Homo sapiens: one gene and its partners. The protein of the gene in region 1 purifies or fractionates together with the protein of each later gene. This does not show direct contact. Each region holds a gene or a part of one and is shown in the gene's direction. Other genes may lie near its edges.

Evidence for each region.
Region 2: the proteins of SLC22A8 (region 1) and SLC25A46 purify together in Homo sapiens (affinity purification with mass spectrometry; one large-scale study listed by BioGRID and IntAct). This does not show direct contact.
Region 3: the proteins of SLC22A8 (region 1) and DNAJC10 purify together in Homo sapiens (affinity purification with mass spectrometry; one large-scale study listed by BioGRID and IntAct). This does not show direct contact.
Region 4: the proteins of SLC22A8 (region 1) and TVP23C purify together in Homo sapiens (affinity purification with mass spectrometry, with the first as the bait; one large-scale study listed by BioGRID). This does not show direct contact.

What each region holds. Positions count from the first base shown.
Region 1 is NC_000011.10:63,005,842-63,009,341, reverse strand, and holds part of SLC22A8 (organic anion transporter 3), read left to right. Parts: intron 1-3,500. UniProt on the Homo sapiens protein: Functions as an organic anion/dicarboxylate exchanger that couples organic anion uptake indirectly to the sodium gradient.
Region 2 is NC_000005.10:110,745,507-110,749,006, forward strand, and holds part of SLC25A46 (mitochondrial outer membrane protein SLC25A46), read left to right. Parts: intron 1-762; coding exon 763-840; intron 841-2,656; coding exon 2,657-2,757; intron 2,758-3,500. UniProt on the Homo sapiens protein: Transmembrane protein of the mitochondrial outer membrane that controls mitochondrial organization.
Region 3 is NC_000002.12:182,722,757-182,726,256, forward strand, and holds part of DNAJC10 (dnaJ homolog subfamily C member 10 isoform 1 precursor), read left to right. Parts: intron 1-3,500. UniProt on the Homo sapiens protein: Endoplasmic reticulum disulfide reductase involved both in the correct folding of proteins and degradation of misfolded proteins.
Region 4 is NC_000017.11:15,560,684-15,564,766, reverse strand, and holds the start of TVP23C (Golgi apparatus membrane protein TVP23 homolog C), read left to right. Parts: upstream 1-1,283; 5' UTR 1,284-1,318; coding exon 1,319-1,330; intron 1,331-4,083. Other genes in the region: TVP23C-CDRT4 (uncharacterized protein LOC100533496), read left to right, coding at 1,319-1,330.

The sequences.
Region 1 (3,500 bases):
TCAGCTGCTGGAGAAGCAGAGAGGCTGCCCAGTGAGGCCTCTTGTGAGCAGACTTCCACCCTGGGAGGGTCCCCTGCCGGGTCTCTGGTCAGCCGCCTCTGACCCTCCTTCATCCCAATCCCCAGTCCCCAGTTGCCCATCTCTCATCTCCAGCAGCACTTCTGCTTCACACCCCCATTTGCCCACCCTCAGCCCTGCCGGGGGCTCATCCTCCTCCATCTCTTTCCTCGCCTCCAATCTGACTCCTGGGAAAAGGCCTGAGAGCCCCACCCAAACCACTTTTCAAGCCAGCCTGATCCCTATTGACAGCCCTGACCGAGAAAGCCCCTGATTATGTGCGCAGGAGGAGGTGGGACCTTCCTGTGAGCTCTCCAGGATCAGGAACTCACCAGTGAGCACCCACTGTACGCAGGGACCTGGGCTGGTGTTTGCATCCCTTCTCTCGTGACCCTGCAAATCAGGCACTATTGTCCCCATTTTACAGAGGAATACACCGGGCTCAGATCCAGAAGGTGGCCTTCCCAGACATGATGGTGGGTCAAGCTTTTACAGAAGACGGGGGGTGTTGGGAGGTCCTGACTACAGAATCCATGCCCTTTCTACTGCATGAGCTGTCCCTGTGAGCACAGGCCTTACAATGACTTAATGGCATTAATAGTGACAATAATAATAAGACAGCTATTGTGAATTGAGTGCCTATTGTTTTCCAGGTATAAGTGCTGGGTGCTTTTCATTCCTATGTCATTCACAAGCCTGAGAAGCAGGTACTAGGTACCTGTGGGTACTGATGAAGAGGCTGAGCCACACGGAGGTTAAGTAATTGGCCCCAGAACACATAGCTCCTAAGTGGCAGAGCTGGAAACTGATGTCTTTTTGACTGTCCCCAAGATACCTGGCTCATCCTCTCTGGTCCTTTTGCCCCAGCACAGGTTCCTCTAGGGATCCAGGAATGCACATGGGCAGCAGCAATTCTCCCCTAAGCTAGACCTGACCTAGCTCCAAAAGGCCCCTGAACTAAGGCAGGCTGTTTCCTGGTTCAGCCAGCTCCCCGCACACACAGCAGGGCCCCATCCTGCTGATCATGGTCCTGATCACAAATGGCTCGTCCTGACTCTCTACAGCCCACTTTCTGCCTCATGCTCTGCAGGGGCCACCTAGCCTCACTTCTTGCTGCTCACACTTTGGATATGATGTCAGAGCAGCTTATCTGGCTCTGACCTTGACTGCCTCCTTGACCACAATCCCAGCCTATGCTGGGCTATGCTGTCTTACAGTGGCTCACAGTAACAGCTCCCGTGTATGGTGCCTTTCCTTCAGCAGCCCAGGCCTCAGAGCACGGCACGCAGGGAGGCATCAAGGAGCTGTGCTCAGGGCCAAGGGTAGCATCTTGGGTCCAGCAGACCTGAGTTTGAGTCTCTTTCTTGAAATGAATTAAGCTATGCTTGAGCAAGCCACTTACCCTCTGAGCCTCAGGTTCTTTGTCTATAAAAAGAGATAACAATAGTACCTACTTTATAAGGTTATTACGCCATTAATTGCAAAGCTTTCTCCTGAGCATCGTGCTTTTCTCTTTCTTCCCCACCACCTTCCTGATGCATCAGCCCATACAGAAAGGCATGGCAGTGAGTTTCCTACCCTTTCCTTCCAGAACCCAGCTCCCTTGGGGCTCGGCTACATTCCAAGAAAGGAAAAAGATGGTCAAGAACACTGAACTAGGCCAGGCGCAGTGGCTTATGCCTGTAATCCCAGCATTTTGGGAGGCTGAGGCAGGTGGATCACCTGAGGTCAGGAGTTTGAGACCAGCCTAGTCCAACATGGTGAAACCTCGTCTCTACTAAAAATACAAAAATTAGCCAGGCATGGTGGTGGGTGCCTGTAGTCCCAGCTACTCCGGAGGCTGAGACAGGAGAATCGCATGAACCTGGGAGGCAGAGGTTGCAGTGAGCCGAGATCGCACCACTGTACTCCAGCCTGGGAGACAGAGTAAGAAAAAAAGGAACACTGAACTAGAATACTGGGAGCAAGAACATTATGTGGAATTGCCAAAAGTTGATGAGACGGATCAGCCAAGGTCATGCCGAGGACTAAACAGAACCACCAGGAGGTTGAGTAACTGGCTCTGTTCAACCAACAAGTTGCCTTTCTTCCCTCTCTGGGCTTCCTCAGTAAAATAAGGATAATTAAATCCAAGGACTCCAAGTGGCACAGCCTATGCATGGAGACACAGTCCAGGGAAACACAAGTCACACTCAACACTTTGAGTAATAATCAAGACATCTGCTATAGGTTTTCTTAACAGGGCCTCCTCAGGGTCTTGGTACAGAAAGCATGCCAAAATTCTCCCAGCCCTGTTCACTCATTAATTATTTGTTGAGGAAACATTAACATATACTATGTAGCAACTATTCTGCTAGCTATTAGAGATAAAACCTCAAGGCTGGGCGCGGTGGCTCACGCCTGTAATCCCAGCACTTTGGGAGGCCTAGGCGGGAGGATCATGAGGTCAGGAGGTCAAAACCATGCTAGCTAACATGGTGAAATCTTGTCTCTACTAAAAAAAAAAAAAATTAGCCAGGCATGGTGGCGCATGCCTATAATCCCAGCTACTCAGGAGGCTGATGCAGGAGAATCACTTGAACCTGGGAGGTAGAGGTTACAGTGAGCTGAGATTGCACCACTGTACTCCAGCCTGAGTAACAGAGCAAGACTCTGTCTCAAAAAAAAAAAAAAAAAAAAAAAAAAAAAACTCAAATGAGACATTCTCAGTCCTCAGCAAGATTACAGAATACAGGACAGCAAACAAGTGAATAAGCAGTTAGAATGCCATGTAATAGGTGCCCTATTGGAGGTAAGAACAAGAAAGGGAAATGAGGAGCACCTTACCTACCCTGGGCGGCTAGACACTCTTATCCATTTATCGAACTGACAAACACTTATTGACCACCTGTTTGTGCCAGACGACCATAAAAGAAGTTCCTGGCTCTCCAAAAAGACGATATTGACATGAGTTTCAAAGGACTGCCAACACTACTAGAATAAGGGGATCATAACCAGCACCAAAGCAAAGAGAAATGCAATAGCATGGAGCTTCTGTAGTGTAACCTGATGGAATCCAAGGACTTGCATGGCTCAGACTACCATGGAGACACAGTCAAGGGAAACACAAGTCACACTCTTGACACCCTGAGTAATAATCAAGACATCTAGCCTAAGTTTTCTTAAAAGGGCCTTCTTAGGGTCTTTGCACAGAAAGCATGCCAAAATTCTCTCTAAATACCTTCCTCTCTCCCAGAAATTCCAGGATGCCTTTAAAAATCTCTCCCATTTGCTCCACATCTGGTTCCCTCATTGCCATGCTTGTCTAGTCCCAATCCTCTTCCAATCACCCCTTATAAAGCCAGCAGTTCCTTCAAATATTCAGGAATCGTGCCGTATATTAGTTTCCTAGGGCTACCATAACAAAGCACAACAAATTGGGTGGCTCAGAACAACAGATTTTA
Region 2 (3,500 bases), on another chromosome or scaffold:
CCTCCCAAAGTGGTGGGATTACAGGTGTGAGCCACTGCGCCCGTCCTGTTATAACCCACTTTCTCTGTAAAGTAATGCTTCCTGTATTTGTTAGCTGTTAGAGTTCAAAACAGTATAAATCATTATAAATTAATCTGTTCATGCTTAGCACTGAAAAGTATGTATACAGAAATACCATTAAAGTAGCATTGACTGTATGTGCCACAGAACAGTGTATTTCAGATATATATTTTACATTGTAGTAATATTAACATGGAGATCCAATGGATACATTACATATAAGTAACAAATATATTATTTTTAAATGTTTTATGAAATAATACCATTAGAATGTAATACATTCTAATATTTTATTGTTTCACATAATAAATATTGTTTTGACACTCCCCCAGTTGATTTCATATACCAGTCAGTTGCCAAGTACAGTTTGAAAAATGCTTGCCTAAAATGAACATGAGTTGGGAGATGTAATTCAGTTGTTTAAGGCAAACCAAATATCAAATAAGACCCTCTTTATTATATAGTCTACAGTACTGTGTGTATTATGCATTGGTCTTCAGATTGTATTTATATAACCATACATACTGTACTTTTAATAGGTTATTTAAAGCACTTTTAAGAGTAATTTTGCTTATGTGTAATTTATGTTGACTTTGGAATTAACTTTTGTTTATACTGCAATTCCACCATATTTCTTTCATGGCTCTGTTATTTCTTGACAAAACATTAACAGAAAAAAATAATGAAATATCTTTTTTACAGGTTAATTACCATGCTCAGCATTACCATCTCACTCCATTTACAGTCATCAATATTATGTACAGTTTCAACAAAACTCAGGTGAGAATTTTGTCTGGATTCTATTAAAGGTTTATATAAGTGTCATTTGGGTTTAGTAATCATTAAAGCAAGAATAATTACTTTCAGTTTGGTCAATAAAACATCTTAACTGTTGTAGTAAAACTAAAGTAGCACAACGATATGTTTTTGAATCTTTCAAAATGTAATTTAGCAAAAGTACAATTTAATTTAGCAAAACCACAAAGAGCTGTGCTAAGATGATGTCTCTGCTATCAAGAGGCTCATATTTATTCATGGAGACAAAATCTTTGAAGATTGTGCTGCAGTAAGATAAAGGCAATATTAGAAGTACAGAATGCTGTCAGAATACAAAAGAGAAGTACCTTATCAAAACTGGGCTTGGGCACAGTGTATGGCTGGGAAAAACTTTGGGAAAAGAAAGGCCCGAATTGTGTGCTTCTTGTTGAGAAGTCTGACTCTTCATGATGAGGATAGAGAAAAGGTTTTTAAAGTAGACGTGTGAAGGCAGAAGACAAAGAGAGATCATAATGTTTGGGAATGGATTTAATGGAGTACAATGGGAGCTTGAAGTGGGGGTTGAAGAGTAAGAGAAAGATGAAAAAGTAGCCAGAGAAGTAAGCAGGATCCAGATTCTAAAGCACCTTCTAAGAACTGCACACTACTAGATCTTAAAAGCTACAAGAGTACTGTTGAAGGTGTTTTAGCCATGACCAAAATATCTTGAAGACCTTTGGATTGTTTGGCAATATCTATTAAAATTTAAAATGTACATGTTCTTTCACTTCCAGGAACTTATCCCACATAGATGTGCACATATATATGCAAAAATATATATACAAGGATGTCCTATGACATTGCATATAATAGACTGGAAATGATTAAATGTCCATCACTAGGGTACCAGTGAAATAATTATGGTATATTATGGTGAAACACCTTGTAACCTTTAAAAATAAGAGGGTAGCTCTGTGTATACTAATGTGGAATGATCTCCAGGATATTTTTTATGTTTCAAGATAATACTACCTGTTAAAAATAAGCAAAACAAAAATATTTCTATAACATACACACACAGATATACTTGTATATGCATGGATTATCCCGATAAATTTTAAAACTGCTGCTGAGGACTGGGATGAAAAGGAGACAGACTTTTCAGCTGATACCCTATTGCTTCTTTTTAATTCTATCATGTATATCTATTAATAATATAGATAATATAGATAAATAATAGGAGTATTACTGATGGTATCATGCAAAGGGGCAAAACCAGAGACAGTGAAACTTGTAGTCAAATTGATATAAAGTAATAGTGTTAAGTATGGAGAAGAGCATGGATTTGTAAGATACTAAGGGAGTAGAATTTGTAGAACCTGGGGACTGATTAGATAGGAAGAGTGAGATAAAAATGTTTTCTAGATATATTGTTTGGACACTAGGATGATGAAGCTGCTATCTAGGGAAATAGGAAATACAGCAGAGAAGGAAAGAATTGGTGTGGTATGAGTGAGTATGATTGGGTTAAGTTGTGGATATGTAAGTTTCAAGTTACCTTGTGTCATCCACAGGACAGGACTAGTAGGGAGTTGAATATATAGATATTAGGGATATTTAATAAATTAGTTAATCATTAGGGGTTTTAATTAATAGGAATGTTCTTCTTGGCCTAAGTATAACTTTAAAATGATATAAAATTAATTGTAGTTCTCTACTAATATTTCTATTAGAATAATGTTTTATTGGAAAATGTCTACACAATATCAAGTTTTATTAAGATCTTTTGTGTTTCAGATGTAGGTATTAACAGAAATAACATGAATTTTGTTCAATTTAGGGACCTAGAGCCCTGTGGAAAGGAATGGGAAGTACATTTATTGTCCAGGGAGTCACACTTGGAGCAGAAGGCATAATTAGTGAATTTACACCTTTGCCAAGGTACCATTTTTAGCATTTCTTCAGTATTAGTTTCATGTGGTGATGTGTTTTTAGATGCAGGCGGTACATGTGCAGGCTTGTTACATGGGTATATTGTGTGATGCTAAAGTTTGGACTTCTAATGATCCTCTCATCCAACAATTCTCAATTGTGTAAACATCATACCCAATAGGTAGCTTTCAACCCTTGTCCCCATCCCTCCCCTATTATATTGTTTTAATAATAAATAAAAAATACCTTGAATCTGAAAACTTGTCTGAAGTAACTAAAAGAAAAAACAAAGAATAAAATTAATTATATATTATTAAATTAGTATGTGATAAAGAAAATGTGTCTTGGCTTAGTATCTATTGAGATGTATCTTTCAGCTTCTACTGCTATGTGCCAGCAACTGCCAGCTGAGGAACAAATGTGGGTATGTGAGCAATTCCCGCTCTTTAAGTATTCATTTAATGAAGGAGACACATGTAAGCAAGAAGAGGTAACATGTCCAATGTCACGGGGTTGGACAGTCTAGGTAATAAAAGAAGTGTCTTATGTTTGGAATATTGGGTATGTATGAAATTGAATATCAGGAAAAGAAGCTGAGGTGCTACATTAAAATACGATTGTGCCTTTTTAAGTTTATTCTCTATGGGTTTGGAATGTGTTTCTTTTTTTAATATATAGATGTTCTGATCAAGATATATTCAAATGGCAGTATAAAATAAATGGAGTTGTATAGACAGATTTATGGAGATCTA
Region 3 (3,500 bases), on another chromosome or scaffold:
ATGGGGAAAACCCTCTCTACTAAAAATACAAAAATTAGGTGTGCCTGGTGGCACGCACCTGTAATCCCAGCTACTTGGGAGGCTGACGCACAAGAATCGCGTGAATCTGGGAGGCTGATATTGCAGTGAGCCATGATGGCACCACAAAAAAAAAGAAAACTAAAATAGCGTACCAGTCGCAAAAAATACATATAAATCTATATGTTTTTCATATATTATCGTTAAAAATTTATTACAGCTACTTGATTTTATACAGTTTGTTCCTTCTAAGCAAGGGTGGCTTTTTTTTTTTTTTTTTTTTGAGACGGAGTCTTGCTTTGTCACCCAGACCAGTGTGCAGTGGCACGATCTTGGCTCACTGCAACCTCTGCCCCCTGGGTTCAAGCGATTCTCCTGCCTCAGCCTTCTGAATAGCTGGGATTACAGGTGCCCGCTACCACACCCAGTTAATTTTTGTATTTGTATTTTTAGTAGAGACAGGATTTCACCATGTTGGCCAGGCTGATCTCGAACTCCTGACCTCAGGCGATCCACCCACGTTGGCCTCCCAAAGTGCCAGGATTACAGGCATGAGCCACCACATCTGGCCAAGGGTGGCATTTTAATCTTATTTTCTACATCATGCTGGTGAGCTTCACATACAAAATAGCTGTTCAATGTGTTACTTTGTTAAAAGCCTTCTAGGTGAACACTTGAACATGTTCTAAGTGAATAGAAAATACATCTTTCCTGTGTTCTGCAAATAAGACAATTTGATTCATTTGGATTGTTAATAGAATTAATGCTCATGTCACAAGCTGGTAGAATCATAACTCTCGTGTGAGTTATATAAACCTATAGCTGTTCCTGTGTGGTTTTTATTGTCTCTCATCTCCTAATATATCAGTAAGTGTTTTGTGTACCAATGGTTCAGAAAACATCGGAATTACAGATAGAGGAACTGAACAAAACTTGCAAGCTTACTAATCCATGAGTCTACCTAGAATGAGACTTCACTGATAGTTATATTGTATATGGGTTCACACTTTTTCAGATGTGTCACTATGCAGAAAAGCTTAAGAACTGTTAATAGTTCATATAGAACCCCAAATGGTAGTTCAAGATAAATTGCAGCCACAAAACTTCAGAGATAATTCATAAATAATTAACCTTGCTTGATGAGAGGAATGAGCAGGAGCATTGTTGTGATAGAGAAGGACCCTCTAGTGAAGCTTTCCCAGGCATTTTTCTGCTAAGCAGATGTTATCATTTCTGGCTCTCTAGAAAGTCAACAAGCAAATGCCTTCTAAGCTCTTCTATTATATGCAGCATAGGTTAAGTAGGTTTAATCAATTCTGACAGCTACTGTAAACTCTGAAAGAATAAAATAAGAGACCTACATAATACAGTAAGGATTGCGGGGATTAAATTTAATATAAGCCCTAAATAAGACATTACCTTGGAAAATCACTTTATTTGAAAAGATTGACTTTTTTTTAACAATTCAAAACATTAATACATACTTGCTAAAATTATAGATTTGAACATGTGATATCTAGCCAATAGTGCAGTTTATATTTTATCTGTAAAATGACCTGATGCAAATTACAAATTTTACTCACTTAAAAAATTTAACATTGTAAAAATGTGCTTTCACATTCAAGATAAAAAGGCGAGGGTAATCTGCTTTTGGTTAAAGGATTTCCATATGATTCCATGTTAAAATTAGTTAATATTTTAAAATAAAAATTTCAGAAATTACAGTAAGACATTAAAACATGCATGGTATTCTAAATACGTGCAACTAATTCAGGCTAATTAGAAACAGGTACAGGACTCAGTGTTCACCTACATTTCAAGTATAAGATAGACCTGTGGGGAAAAAGTTAATCTGTACCTTACAGGCAAAGTAATTACATTTTACTTTGCTAATAGAAGCTGTTAACTGGAGTTGTATGTATATTAACAGACAGTAGCTGTAGTTGTATAGTTTAGAAGTGGAAAGTTGCATTTTGAAATGTAATAATTCTATTCTGGGTCACTGTTAGGCACAACATCCCATTGAGCTGTGATGATACAGTATTTAAAATATTTTAACTTTATTCTTATTACTCAGCAATCAGTGGGAACTTGGCAAATATGAGAAGTGCTCGATGAAGACAAAGTACAGGTGTACCTCATTTTATTACACTTTGATTTATTGCACTTCATAGATAATGCACTTTTTTTTCCTTAACAAATTGAAGGTTTTTAGCAACCCTACATCAAGCGAGTCTATCAGCTGAACGTGTTTCCAATAGCATGTGCTCATTTCATGTCTCTTTCTCACATTTTGGTATCCAAACTTTTTCATTATTATTCTGTCTGTTACAGTGATCTACAGTCAGTGATCTTTGATGTTACTATTGTAATCATTTTGGAGTGTGCCCATAGGATGGCATACTTAATTTTTGTGTCTATTCTGACTGCTCCCTCTTCCTTCTCCCTTTTCTCTCCCACTTCTTGGGCCTCCCTACTCCCTGAGATACAACATTACTGAAATTAAGCCAATTAATAACTACAGTGACCTCTTAAGTGTTGAAGTGGAAGAGATGCACATCTCTCATTTTAAATCAGAAGCTAGAAATGATTAAGCTTAGTGAGGGAGGCATATCAAAACCCAAGACAGGCTAAAAGGTAGACCTCTTTTGCTAGTTAAATTATAAATGCAAAGGAAAAGTTCTTCATGGAAAGTAAACGTGCTACTCCAGTGAACACACTAATGATAACACAAAACAGCCATACTGCTAACATAGAGAATGTCTTAGTGGTCTGGGTAGATCAAATTATCTACAACATCCCCTTAGCGAAAGCCTAACCAGAGAAAGACCCTAATTCTTTTCAATTTTATGGAGGCTTAGAGAGATGAAGAAGCTGCAGAAAAAAGTTTGAAGCTAGAAAAGGTTGGTTCATGAGGTTTAAAGAAAACAGCCATCTCCATAACATCAAAATACAAGATGAAGCAGCAAGTCCCGACATAGAAGCTGCAGCAAGTTTTCCAGAAGATCTAGCTAAGATCATTGATGAAGGTGGCTATACTAAACAACAAATTCTCAATGTTAATGAGACAGCCTTCCATTGGAAGAAGATGCTATCTGGGACTTTTTTTTCATGCCTGCTAACACCATATCCATTCTGCAGCCCGTAAATCAAGGAGTAATTTCAACTTCAAGTCATATTATCTAAGAAATACATTTCATAAGGCTCTACCTGCCATAGGTAGTGATTCCTCTGATGGATCCAGGCAAAGTAAATTGGAAACCTTCTGGAAAGGAGTCACCATTCTAGTGTCATTAAGAACATCTGTGATTCATGGAAGGAGGTCAAAATATCAGTGTTACAGGAGTTGGGAAGAAGTTCATTCCAACCTTCATGGATGACTTTGAGGTGTTCAAGGCTTCAATGGAGGATGTAACTGTAGATGTGATAGAAATAGCAAGAGAACTGGAATTAGAAGTGGAGCCTGATTATGTGACTGAATT
Region 4 (4,083 bases), on another chromosome or scaffold:
TACTAAAAATACAAAATTAGCTTTAAAAATTAGCTATTAAAAATTAAAAGACGATAATGAATTCAAACACAATGCCTTAAAAAACCAAAAACTACGAAAAACAACACAAAACTCCACAGCACTGAGTGGACCACTGAAAACCTGCCATGGGCAGGCTGGACGTACAGGCCCCAAATTTGTTAGCTTTTCATCTCCAAGGGCACGAATGCAATTGTGCTGCCGAAATGTCTCGCCTTTGAGAAACGCGTGTGTGTGTTTTTCCCCTTTCATTATTAGAATATTAGGTTTTAAATGGCACTGGCAAACAGCCACATAAAATTTGTGATTTTAATAGAATCCCTTCAATTAAGGAAACGTGCAAATACCACTATGCCAACAGCAGTCTGACTCGGCCAGACAGATAGGATATTGTCATCATCACCGCTTCAAAGATGACTTAACGCCCCTTAATTTCACATCCTTTGTTCAGGCAAGATCACAGCATGAGCGGCTGGACTTAAAACTGTAATAAGTATAACGTCTCCCATTTACTAGATACTTACACTGTAAGGAAACCATTATCACCCCCACTTTACAACTGACGAAAGAAGTACATAAAGGTTGGTGATATGATTGGCAATAGAGTTCCCAGGCGCCTAAGCTCCAGGGCGCAAGGTCTCAACTCCTGGAGTCTAAGTTTATACCTCCCATAATAATACCGTCCATTAGTTACTCTAGAGTCCTCCTGCCTTGTTTTTCTTAACGTTTTACTTCTCTGCAAGAACATATTTTAAAAAGTTGCTTCTACAATTTAAAGTACAAAAGTAATACTGTACAGGAGTAAGTCTTTGTAAAATATTTAAAGAAAATTATATTATACAATAAAACCCCGCCCCCCTGCATTCGGGGCAGCGACGCTGGGGGAACGACTTTAGAATTTGCATTGGGTGGACAGCAAATACTTCCGTAAAACAGACCATGAAGCTTTCCACTTGGAGCCCACTGTGGCCCCAATGCCTTTCCCTTTCGCTCCTGCTCCAGGCTCCGCCTCCGCCGTGTCCGGGCTGCTCGCCCCGCCCCCGCTCGCCCCGCCCCCGCTCGCCCCGCCCCCGCTCGCCCCGCCCCCGCTCGCCCCGCCCCCGCTCGCCCCGCCCCCGCTCGCCCCGCCCCCGCTCGCCCCGCCCCTGGATTTGCTCCCTCAAAGCGGAGGTGAGGCCGGACTGAGGCTCTTACAGTGGTCCCTGCTGGCCCTTGGTGACGGGTCGCGTCAGTTCCGACCCGGACCCGTACGCTGCTGCGCTGACGTGGCTCCTGGAAGCAGGGCTGGCGTAGGGCCGCCATGTTGCAGCAGGTGAGGGGCTGAGGGCGCGCTGGGAGGGTGGCGGCTCCTGGGACTGGCTCTGCAGGTTCCGTGGGACTGGAGCCCGCGTCCCCCGCGCCCGCTACTCGAACTCGAGGAGGAGCGGGGCGGCCGGGAGTGGAGGGCTGTGGGTAGTTGTCTGAGGAGGGCTGCTGGGGGTTCTGAGGCCGCTGGGGGAGGCGTGACCCGTGCGGCGCAGAGCAAGTACTTCTTGCGGCTGTGGGGACGCCCATTGTTAACCAGCGCGAGTGGGGGTCTCTCTTTCCTCAACCCTTATTGCCGGGGTGGAGTTGAGGAGGAGCGGCCTGCGGGCCTCTTAGCTTCCTGACACCCAGGGGTGCGATGCTATCTTGTAGGAATCGGCGACACCGCCAGAGCCTCGCTTTCAAATTGCTGTTTCCAAACTAATGTTGTTGGTGATTCTCTCCTTTGTGCTCTTAGAGTTAATTGTAGTCCACATGTTGGCAACCAGAGACTCGTAAGATTAATAATATTTTTAGAAAAAACTACTGTTTATGGTCACTTAGATTGTCTTAAGTGTTTTTTTCTTTCGGTTCACACAAAATTTGTTGAGGGATTACTATGACTCAGACACGGTTGTAGGCCCAGGGATAGGGTTGTGACCAGTACAGACAGGTTTCTTGCCCCGTATTTTCGGGTTAGGGAAGTGGGTTCTAGGAGATGGGGGTTGGGTGGGGAGACACGATAAATTGTATAACCAAAGATATTTTCAGATAATTGCAAAGGCAGGGTGATGAAATAACAAGTGTCCGAGGATAGGACAACTAAGATTTATGGTCAGGAAAGACTGCTTATGAGGAGATGCCTTGAGTGGAGAAAATCTAATAATGGTTAAATTCAGCTGTATTACAGGAAAGGTGTCCCGATCCAGACCCGAAAAGAGGGTCCTTGGCCGGGCGTGGTGACTCAGGCCTGTAATCCCAGCACTTTGGGAGGACGAGGTGGGTGGATCATGAGGTCAAGAGATCGAGACCATCCTGGCCAACTTGGTGAAACCCTGTCTCTACTAAAAATACAAAAATTAGTTGGGCGTGATGATGCACGCCTGTAGTCCCAGCTACTCGGGAGGCTGAGGCAGGAGAATCGCTTGAACTGGGGAGGCCGAGGTTGCAGTGAGCCGCGGGCCACTGCACTCCATCCAGCCTGGCTACAGAGGGAGACTCCGTCTCAAACAAAACAAAAAAAGTCTTGGATCAGGCAAGAAGGAATTCAGGGTGAGTCCACAGTGCAAAGTGAAAGCAAGTTTATTAAGAAAGTAAAGGAATGGCTACTCCATAGAGCAGCCTGGAGGGCTGCTGGTGGCCCATTTTTATGGGTATTTCTTAGTGATATGGTTAATAAGGGGTGGATTATTCATTCCTCCCCTTTTAGATCATAGAGAGTAACTTCCTGATGTTGCCATGGCATTTGTAAACTGGCATGGCGCTGTTGGGAGTCTAGTAGTGAGGACGACCAGTGGTCACTCTCGTGGCCATCTTGGTCTTGGTGGGTTTTGGTTGGCTCCTTTATTGCAACCTGTTTTTTCAGCAAGGTCTTTATGACCTGTATTTTGTGCCGACCTCACATCTCATCCTGTGATTTAGAATGCCCTGTCTGGGAATGCAGCCCAGTAGGTTTCAGCCTCATTTTACCCAGCTCCTATTGAAGATGGAGTTGTTCAGGTTCACATGCTTCTGACATTTGAACCTGCGCCCAGGCCGGATGAGGCTGGAGAAACACAACCATGTTGACTGTTCCCACTATTTATTTATTTATTTATTTATTTATTTATTTATTCATTCATTCATTCATTCATTCATTCATTTATGAGACGGAGTTTCACTCTTGTTGCCCAGGCTGGAGTACAATGGTGTGATCTCGGCTCACTGCAACCTCCGTCTCCCGGCTTCAAGCGATTCTTCTGCCTCACCCTCCAGAGTAGCTGGGATTACAGGCGCCCGCCACCATGCCCGGCTAATTTTTGTATTTTTAGTAGAGATGGGGTTTCACCATATTAACCAGGCTGGTCTTGAGCTCCTGACCTCAGGTTATCCACCCGCCTCGGCCTTCCAAAGTGCTAGGATTACAGGCGTGAGCCGCCAGGCCCGGCCGACTGTTCCCACTTGATAAGTTTGTGATGTGAACCTCAGTCGAGCCCTTAGTGCTGCCAGGCGGTCATTCTACATTTCCATAGCCCCTTCACCCTCTCGCCTTAGGCAACTATTAAAACTCAAATCTTCAACGTTTCTTCTCTTATCCTCTCTCAGCTGGTAACGTTGCTTCTTGTTTCACTGAAAATGGAAGCCGTCGGAAGACAATTTTCACACTAGCTGCCTATTTATTTGCATGTTTACTCAGGGTCTCATATTCTTTTATGATAATTGGACTGTCAGTGCTCCATTCTTAGGTCTTCCTGTCTACTGTGTCCTGGTTTCCATCTCCTCTTGCCTACTGGAAGGCATTGTTCTAGTAATTCTCTTTCTTGCATCATCAGTTTTTTAATCCTTTTAAACGTTTGCTCACATCAACATATAAACGTGTTTTAATTTCTCTTACCTTAAAAAATGAAAACTTGGCCGGGTGCGGTGGCTCACACCTGTAATCCCAGCACTTTGGGAGGCCGAGGCGGGTGGATCACGAGGTCAGGAGATCGAGACCATCCTGGCTAACACGGTGAAACCCCGTCTGTACTGAAAAACAACAAATTAGCCAGGGGTGGTGGTGGGCAGCTGTAGTCCCAGCTA